2 linked regions of the Homo sapiens genome follow. The protein of the gene in region 2 purifies or fractionates together with the protein of the main gene of each other region. This does not show direct contact. Each region holds a gene or a part of one and is shown on either strand. Other genes may lie near its edges.

The links. Proteins that work in one complex are often made in the same cells at the same time.
Region 1: the proteins of F2RL1 (region 2) and SLMAP purify together in Homo sapiens (affinity purification with mass spectrometry; 3 studies listed by BioGRID and IntAct, with this or other methods). This does not show direct contact.

Annotation. Positions count from the first base shown.
Region 1 is NC_000003.12:57,857,273-57,860,929, forward strand, and holds part of SLMAP (sarcolemmal membrane-associated protein), read left to right. Parts: intron 1-460; coding exon 461-556; intron 557-815; coding exon 816-887; intron 888-3,426; coding exon 3,427-3,567; intron 3,568-3,657. UniProt on the Homo sapiens protein: Associates with the striatin-interacting phosphatase and kinase (STRIPAK) core complex, forming the extended (SIKE1:SLMAP)STRIPAK complex.
Region 2 is NC_000005.10:76,828,879-76,832,428, reverse strand, and holds part of F2RL1 (proteinase-activated receptor 2 preproprotein), read right to left. Parts: intron 1-3,550. UniProt on the Homo sapiens protein: Receptor for trypsin and trypsin-like enzymes coupled to G proteins.

The sequences.
Region 1 (3,657 bases), on a different chromosome or scaffold from region 2:
ATTTCCTATCTGCAGGGAATATGTTCCATGACCCCCAGTAGATGCCTGAAATCACAGATAGTACCAAACCCTATATCTACTATGTTTTTTCCTATATATACACATACCTATGATAAAGTTTGACTTATAAATTAAGCATAGTAAGAAATTAACAATAATAATAAAATAGAACAATTACAACAGTATACTGTTATGTGAATAAAAGTTATGTGAATGTCAACATTCTGTCTGTCTCTCTCAAAATATCTTGTACTGCACTATAACTGAAACTGTGGAAAGGGAAACCAGAGATAAGCGGGGACTGCTGTATGTTTTACAAAGTACTATCAAGTTTCACTACTTTAAAATACATCAAGTGGGATGTAATATGAAAATATTTTAGAATATGCTGAAAATTGATCACTCCTCAAAAGAATCATGATGAGCTTATTAGAATCTGTTTTGTGATTTGTAATACTAGGAGGCCTTACATCGGGAACAAATGTTGGAACAGAAGTTAGCCACGCTTCAGCGGCTACTAGCCATCACCCAAGAGGCTTCAGATACCAGTTGGCAGGTATTCCAGTTGTTTTATATTTAAGAAACATTTAAACATAGTTTAATATTCCATACATGTTAAATAAACTAAAATGTAGCAAACAAAGACAAAGTTATTTCCTAACTAATGAACAAGTTGTTGAAGATTTAGCATTTTACAGTGGATGCTGGTCAGTTTTACGCTTTTATATCTTTTGTTGTCAGTAGCAACCTTTTTTTATATACATGTGACTTTATAATTACTCGGGTTTTACTTACATTTAATTTTTCTTCAATAGGCTTTAATAGATGAAGATAGACTCTTATCACGGTTAGAAGTTATGGGAAACCAATTACAGGCATGCTCCAAAGTAGGTATTAACCTCAAATGTGTAAAATGAAATGCATAGTTTTTTATGTAACATCATTTCTTTGACTATCATTTTGAGTATATGCTAAAAACTTCATACATTTCCACAATTCTTTTAAATCTTTTGTGCTGAGAAACGTCAGACATCCATGTAAATAAAAATAATTACATAATGAATACCCATGTACAAGTCTGTCTTTTTTCTATTGCAGTTAATATTTCTTGAAAAAACTGGGTCATTTGTCCTCTAGAATTTCCCTCAGTCTGCATTGTTATTTAAACATTTTTTAGCTCCCCCTCCCACTCCATAAAGTAGTAGTTCCATCTAGAGATTTGATGTGATTTAGGTTCAGTTTTTCTTTTTGTCAACAACACTTTATGGATGGTATTGTGTTCTTCCACCAAGGGACAACATAATGTCTAGTTGTCTTTCTTTTTGAGATTTTTATCAATCATTGATGATCCCAGGCTAGATCCATTATTTCATTACGGTTACAAATAAGGCTGGGCGCAGTGGCTCACACCTATAATCCCAGCACTTTGGGAGGATGAGGCGGGCGAATCACCTGAGCTCGAGAGTTCAAGACCAGTCCAACCGACATGGAGAAATCCCATCACTACTAAAAATACAAAATTAGCCGGGCATGGTGGCACATGCCTGTAATCCCAGCTACTCAGAAGGCTGAGACAGGAGAATCCCTTGAACCCAGGAGGCAGAGGTTGCAGTGAGCCAAGATCGTGCCATTGCAATGTAGCCTGGGCAACAAGAGTGAAACTCTGTCTCAACAACAACAACAACAACAAAAAAGTTACAAAAATAATGATGTAATTCTGTTATTCCTTCACTTATTTAGCTGGGTTACTTCTATAAAGAGAAGTTTCCTTCCATACACAGTGGCTCATGCCTGTAATCCTAGCACTTTGGGAGGCCAAGGCAGGCGGATTGCTTGAGGTCAGGAGTTCAAAACCAGCGTGGCCAACATGGCGAAACCCCGTCTCTACTAAAAGTACAAAAATTAGCTGGACATGGTGGCATGTACCTGTAATCCAAGCTACTCAAGAGGCTGAGACAGAATTGCTTAAACCCGGTGGGGGTGGAGGTTGCAGTGAGCCAAGATCGCACCTCTGAACTCCAGCCTGGGCGACAGAGCGAGACTGTCTCAAAAAAAAAAAAAAAAAAAGCGGGGGCAGTTTGAGACCAGTATGGGCAACATGGCAAAACCCAGTATCTACCAAAAATTAAAGATTTGCTTAGCATAGTGGTACATAACCTGTAGTCCTAGCTACTCGGGAGGCTTAGGTGGAAGGATCGCTTGAGCCCAGGAGTTTGTGATTACAGTGAGTTATGATCGCAGAACTGCGCTCCAGCCTTGGTGACAAAGAGAGACCCTGTCTCTAAAAAAACGAAAAAAGGAAAAACAATGGCCATTGTTTTTTGTAACTTTGGCATCAAAAACCAAATACCACATGTTCTCATTTATAAGTGGAAGCTAAGCTATAGGTATGTAAAGGCATAAAGAGTGCTATAATGGACATTGGAGACTCAGAAGTTGGGAAAGTGAGAGGGGAGTGAGGGATGAAAAACTCCCTATTGAATACAATATACACTACTCAGGTAATGAGTGCACTAAAACCCCAGACATCACCACTACATAATTCATCCATGTAACCAAAAACCACTTGTATCTCTAAAGGTATTGGAATAAAAAAATTTAAATAACCCTGAGGTATGTTTTCTACGGGGAAAGCAAGATAAGTGATTTTCTCCCCTTATTTATTAGATTTCAGAATAATGAATTGGTGGTTTTTCATCTACCAAAGACTGGCCATGAAGTGTTTTCTCACTCCACTTAGATTTAAACATATTTGATGTATTTAAATCTGGTGCAGTTGTTTTTCTTGTTTTAGAGACAGGGTCTTGCTATGTTGCCCAGGCTGGTCTTGAACTCCTGGGCTCACGCAATCCTCCCATCTCGGCCTCCCAAAGTGCCACGGCCAGCCTATTTTTCTTATTGATGCTCAAATTATCCCATCTTTGGTCTGTGTAAATGTCTTCAGAGTGATAGCTTCATGCTGTCATTTCAGACAAGATGTTTCAGGCTCATTTTGTACTTTTCCTGCCCCAGACATGAAGTCTGCTTTTCCCCCATGGTACTCTTATTCCTTTTGTTTTAACCATTGTTTCAGAATGCTTGGTGCCTTTGAAGGTAATTGATTATTTTTGCCTACAAATGTGAATATGGTGGCTTGCAGAAAATATGACAAATATAAAAGTAACTAATTTTGTATATTTTAGGGAAATTCTCAATTGCCTATAACTTTTTTTTTCTATAGGAAGTGGAAATTAGTAAGTTTGTGAAGGCATAATTTACTTATGCAACTTGTAAATACATCTTTAGTTAATACAGGGCCAGAATCATTTATGTTTGGAGGTACCTTAATATATAATTTAAAGTATATCATAATGTGTTAATTTTTTTCAAACAATAAATGCTTTTAAAAAATAACTTGTCTATAATTATAAATATCTTTTATTGTAGAATCAAACAGAAGATAGTTTACGAAAGGAACTTATAGCATTACAAGAGGATAAACATAACTATGAGACAACAGCCAAAGAGTCCCTGAGGCGGGTTCTTCAGGAGAAAATTGAAGTGGTTAGAAAACTTTCAGAAGTTGAGGTATTTCAATCAAAAAAAAAATACTAAATAGTATTATGAGTGTTCAAAAAAATCTCAAGCATTCCAGGATACTTTAAACTTGGGTATTAT
Region 2 (3,550 bases):
GATCTCACTATGTTGCCCAGGCTGTTCTCAAACTCCTGGCCTTAAGATTCTCCTGCCTCAGCCTCCCAAAGTGGTGAGATACAAGTGTGAGCCACTGAGCCCAGCCTCAAATGAAAGTACTTTAGATGAAAACAGAAATGTACTATTAGAGGATTACACAAAATGCTTATAGGGGCTTTTCTTTGTGTAATGAGATTATTGGGATTTCTATTGTCTGGTTTAGTTTGGTTTTATGGGTTTTTTTCTTACAGTGAGTATTTTTGTATCGGGGAGTTGTAAGGAGTTGTGGGATGCATGTGGAGCATCGATTTCTAGGAATATAAAGAAGACTAACAATATTTCAATTTATTTTTACAAACTGTCCACACTCATTAGTCCCCAGCTATTCTTTTTATTTTACTTATTATTTTTTTTTTTTTTAGAGATGGGGTCTTGCTATGTTGACTAAGCTGGTCTCGAACTCCTGGCTTCAAGTGATCCTCCCATCTTGGCCTCCCAAAGTGCTGGAATTACAGGTGTGAGACATCACGCCCAGCTCTAGCTATTCTTATCACATGACCAACAACAGTCCTTTGATTTATCAATTAGTAAAATTTGGTTTGGCTGGGCATGGTGGCTCATGCGTGTAATCTCAGCACTTTGGGAGGCTAAGGCAGGTGGATCACCTGAGGTCAGGAGTTTCAGACCAGCCTGGCTAACATGGCGAAACCCTGACTCTGTTAAAAATACAAAAATTAGCCAGGCGCAGGCGCCTGTAATCCCAGCTACTTGGGAGGCTGAGGCAGAAGAATCGCTTGAACCCCGGAAGTGGAGGTTGCAGTGATCCAAGATCATGCCACTGCACTTCAGCCTGGGTGACAGAGCGAGCCTCAGTCAAAAAAAAAAAAAAAAAATCAGTTTAGGAATGTGCAGTAATTCCTTTCTAAATTCTCAAGTGTGTAAAATAGCGATCCCCATCCTGACACCAGTTTTCTAATTTCTCACTTCATAATGGCCTTCTATCCCACTCTAGCCCTGAGCCAGGATCCTTCCTGGCCTATTCAATTCATCATACCCTATTCAGAGCTTGCCACAGGGAGATTCCAGGACCACAAGGGACATTCCCTTTTCACCCACAACGATAGCCTCAACAATGGCAGGGATTTTCCCTGCTCATGTGCTGGTTTCCTGGAGAATGTCCCATGGAGGCCAACTGGCAGGGAAACCGTCTGGCCTGGATAGGTGGCTGTACTGATGACAGACTTTCAAGCATGTAGCATGACAAGCTAACTTATTATCCCTCTCTTATATTATGAAGTTGACCTAAAAACCACAAAGAAATGAATGGCATGTCCTCCCTACATTCTGCCCCTAAGTATTCATGAACCTGCAGGAGTAAGTAAGGACAATATAAGGATACTGAATAATTTTACTCTAATTCTGGGGAAAAGTAGGCCTCACCAAGCAGAGAAGACAGGGCAATACTTGCACTGCCGTATACCAGGGGGATATTAAACCTACTCATGCTCTTATCTCATAATGTTATGCTTGGTCATCATTTTTCCACTAGAAGCTTTACACTAATGTTCCGCAGAATTTTTCACATCTTAATGCTTCCCTATTTGGGATGCTAGCCTGGGTGGAGTGTTGGGGGATGTAGAGATCAATATTTCACTTTTCACTTAGTGTAGTGGGTTGAAAGGTGGTGCCCCCAAAAGAGAAGTCTATGTCCTAATCGCCAGACTCTGTGAACATTATTTAGCAAAAATGTCTTTGCAGATAGAATTAAGGATCCTAAGATAAGAAGATCTCCCTGGGTTATCTAGGCGGGCCCTAAATCCAATGACAAGTGTCGTTTCTAAGATAAAGGCAGAGGCCTGGCGTGGTGTCTCACGCCTGTAATCCCAGCACTTTGGGAGGCTGAGGTGGGTGGATCACGAGGTCAGAAGTTCAAGACAAGCCTGGCCAACATAGTGAAACCCTGTCTCTACTAAAAATACAAAAATTAGCCGGGCGTGGTGGCAGGCGCCTGTAGTTCTAGCTACTTGGGAGGCTGAGGCAGGAGAATTGCTTGAACCTGGGAGGCGGAGGTTGCAGTGAGCCAAGATTGCGCCACTGCACTCCAGCCTGGGCGACAGAGTTAAAGTCTGTATCAAACAACAAAACAGAGAGAAAAGCAGAAAGAGATCTGCAACACGCAGAAAAGGAGAAGCCAGAGGAGTGAGTGACATGAGAATGGAGGCAGAGATTGGAGTCACATCAAGGAACAGGCCAAGAATGCCAAGAAATGCCAGCAGCCACTGCAAGCTGGAAAAGGCAAGGAATGGACTCTCCCTTAGAGCTTTTGGAGGGCTTGTGGCCCCAATTCCTTGATTTCAGACTTCTGGTCTCCAGAACTGACAGAATAAATGTGTTGTTTTACATCATCAGTTTATGGCAATTTGCTATGGTAGCCACAAGAAACTAATATGCTTAGGATAGTCCTATTTCTAGTGGTTCTATTTTTTTTATATAATTCTTCAAAAAGAACATATGTTGTTTTTAAATTTAAAAAAAATTCCTACATATTACAGTGTTCTTCAAATATTTGACCATAACCCCTAAGAACCATATTCCACATACTAACCCAGTTCCCAATACACATATCCATGGTGGAAAAACGTTTCACAAAATAATAATTATTCTTATTACATAGGGTGCACTGATACTTTCTATTGTATTCTATTCCATTATTATAAAAAGCCAGTTATTATTCTTTAACACTGATTTCACAGGCCACTTAACTTAGAATGACAATGTATGTAACAATTAGAAAGTAACATACTGGAAATTAATTTGGTGTTGGATTCAGTGCTTGATTAGTGTTATAGACTGAGCAACTGGTGCAGTTATTGTGGAAATTATCCAACACCAAATTAATGGAAATGAAGGGGGCAAAGTGTTAAACAACACCACAAATGTAGTCAGTAAAATTGAGACTCTGGGAACTGCTACAGGATAAAGGACCTGTTTTTTACAAAATATAAATTATAAGGCAAAAAATAAGAAAGAGGGCCAGGCACAGTGCCTCATGCCTTCAATACCCAGCACTTTGAGAGGCCAAAGCAGGAGGATTGATTGAGACCAGGAGTTCAAGACCAGCCAGGGCAACATAGCACAATGCCATCTCTTCAAAAAAAAAAAAAAGAAGAAGAAGAAGAACAAAGGTAAAAAAAAGGTGTGGAGGTGAAATTTATAGAGTAGAAGATTTAAAAGACATATCAGTCATATAATGTGTGTACCTTGTTTCAATCCTGATTCAAACAAACCATAAAAATAACTTGTTTTTTTTTTTGAGATGGAGTCTTACTCTGTCGCCCAGGCTGGAGTGCAGTGGTGCGATCTTGGTTCACTGCAACCTCCGTCTCCCAGGTTCAAGCAATTCTCCTGCCTCAGCTTCCCAAGGAGCTGGGATTACAGGTGCACACCACTACATCCAGCTAATTTTTGTATTTTTAGTAGAGATGGGGTTTCACCATGTTGGTCAAGCTGGTCTCGAACTCCTGATCTCAAGTGATCTGCCCACCTGAGC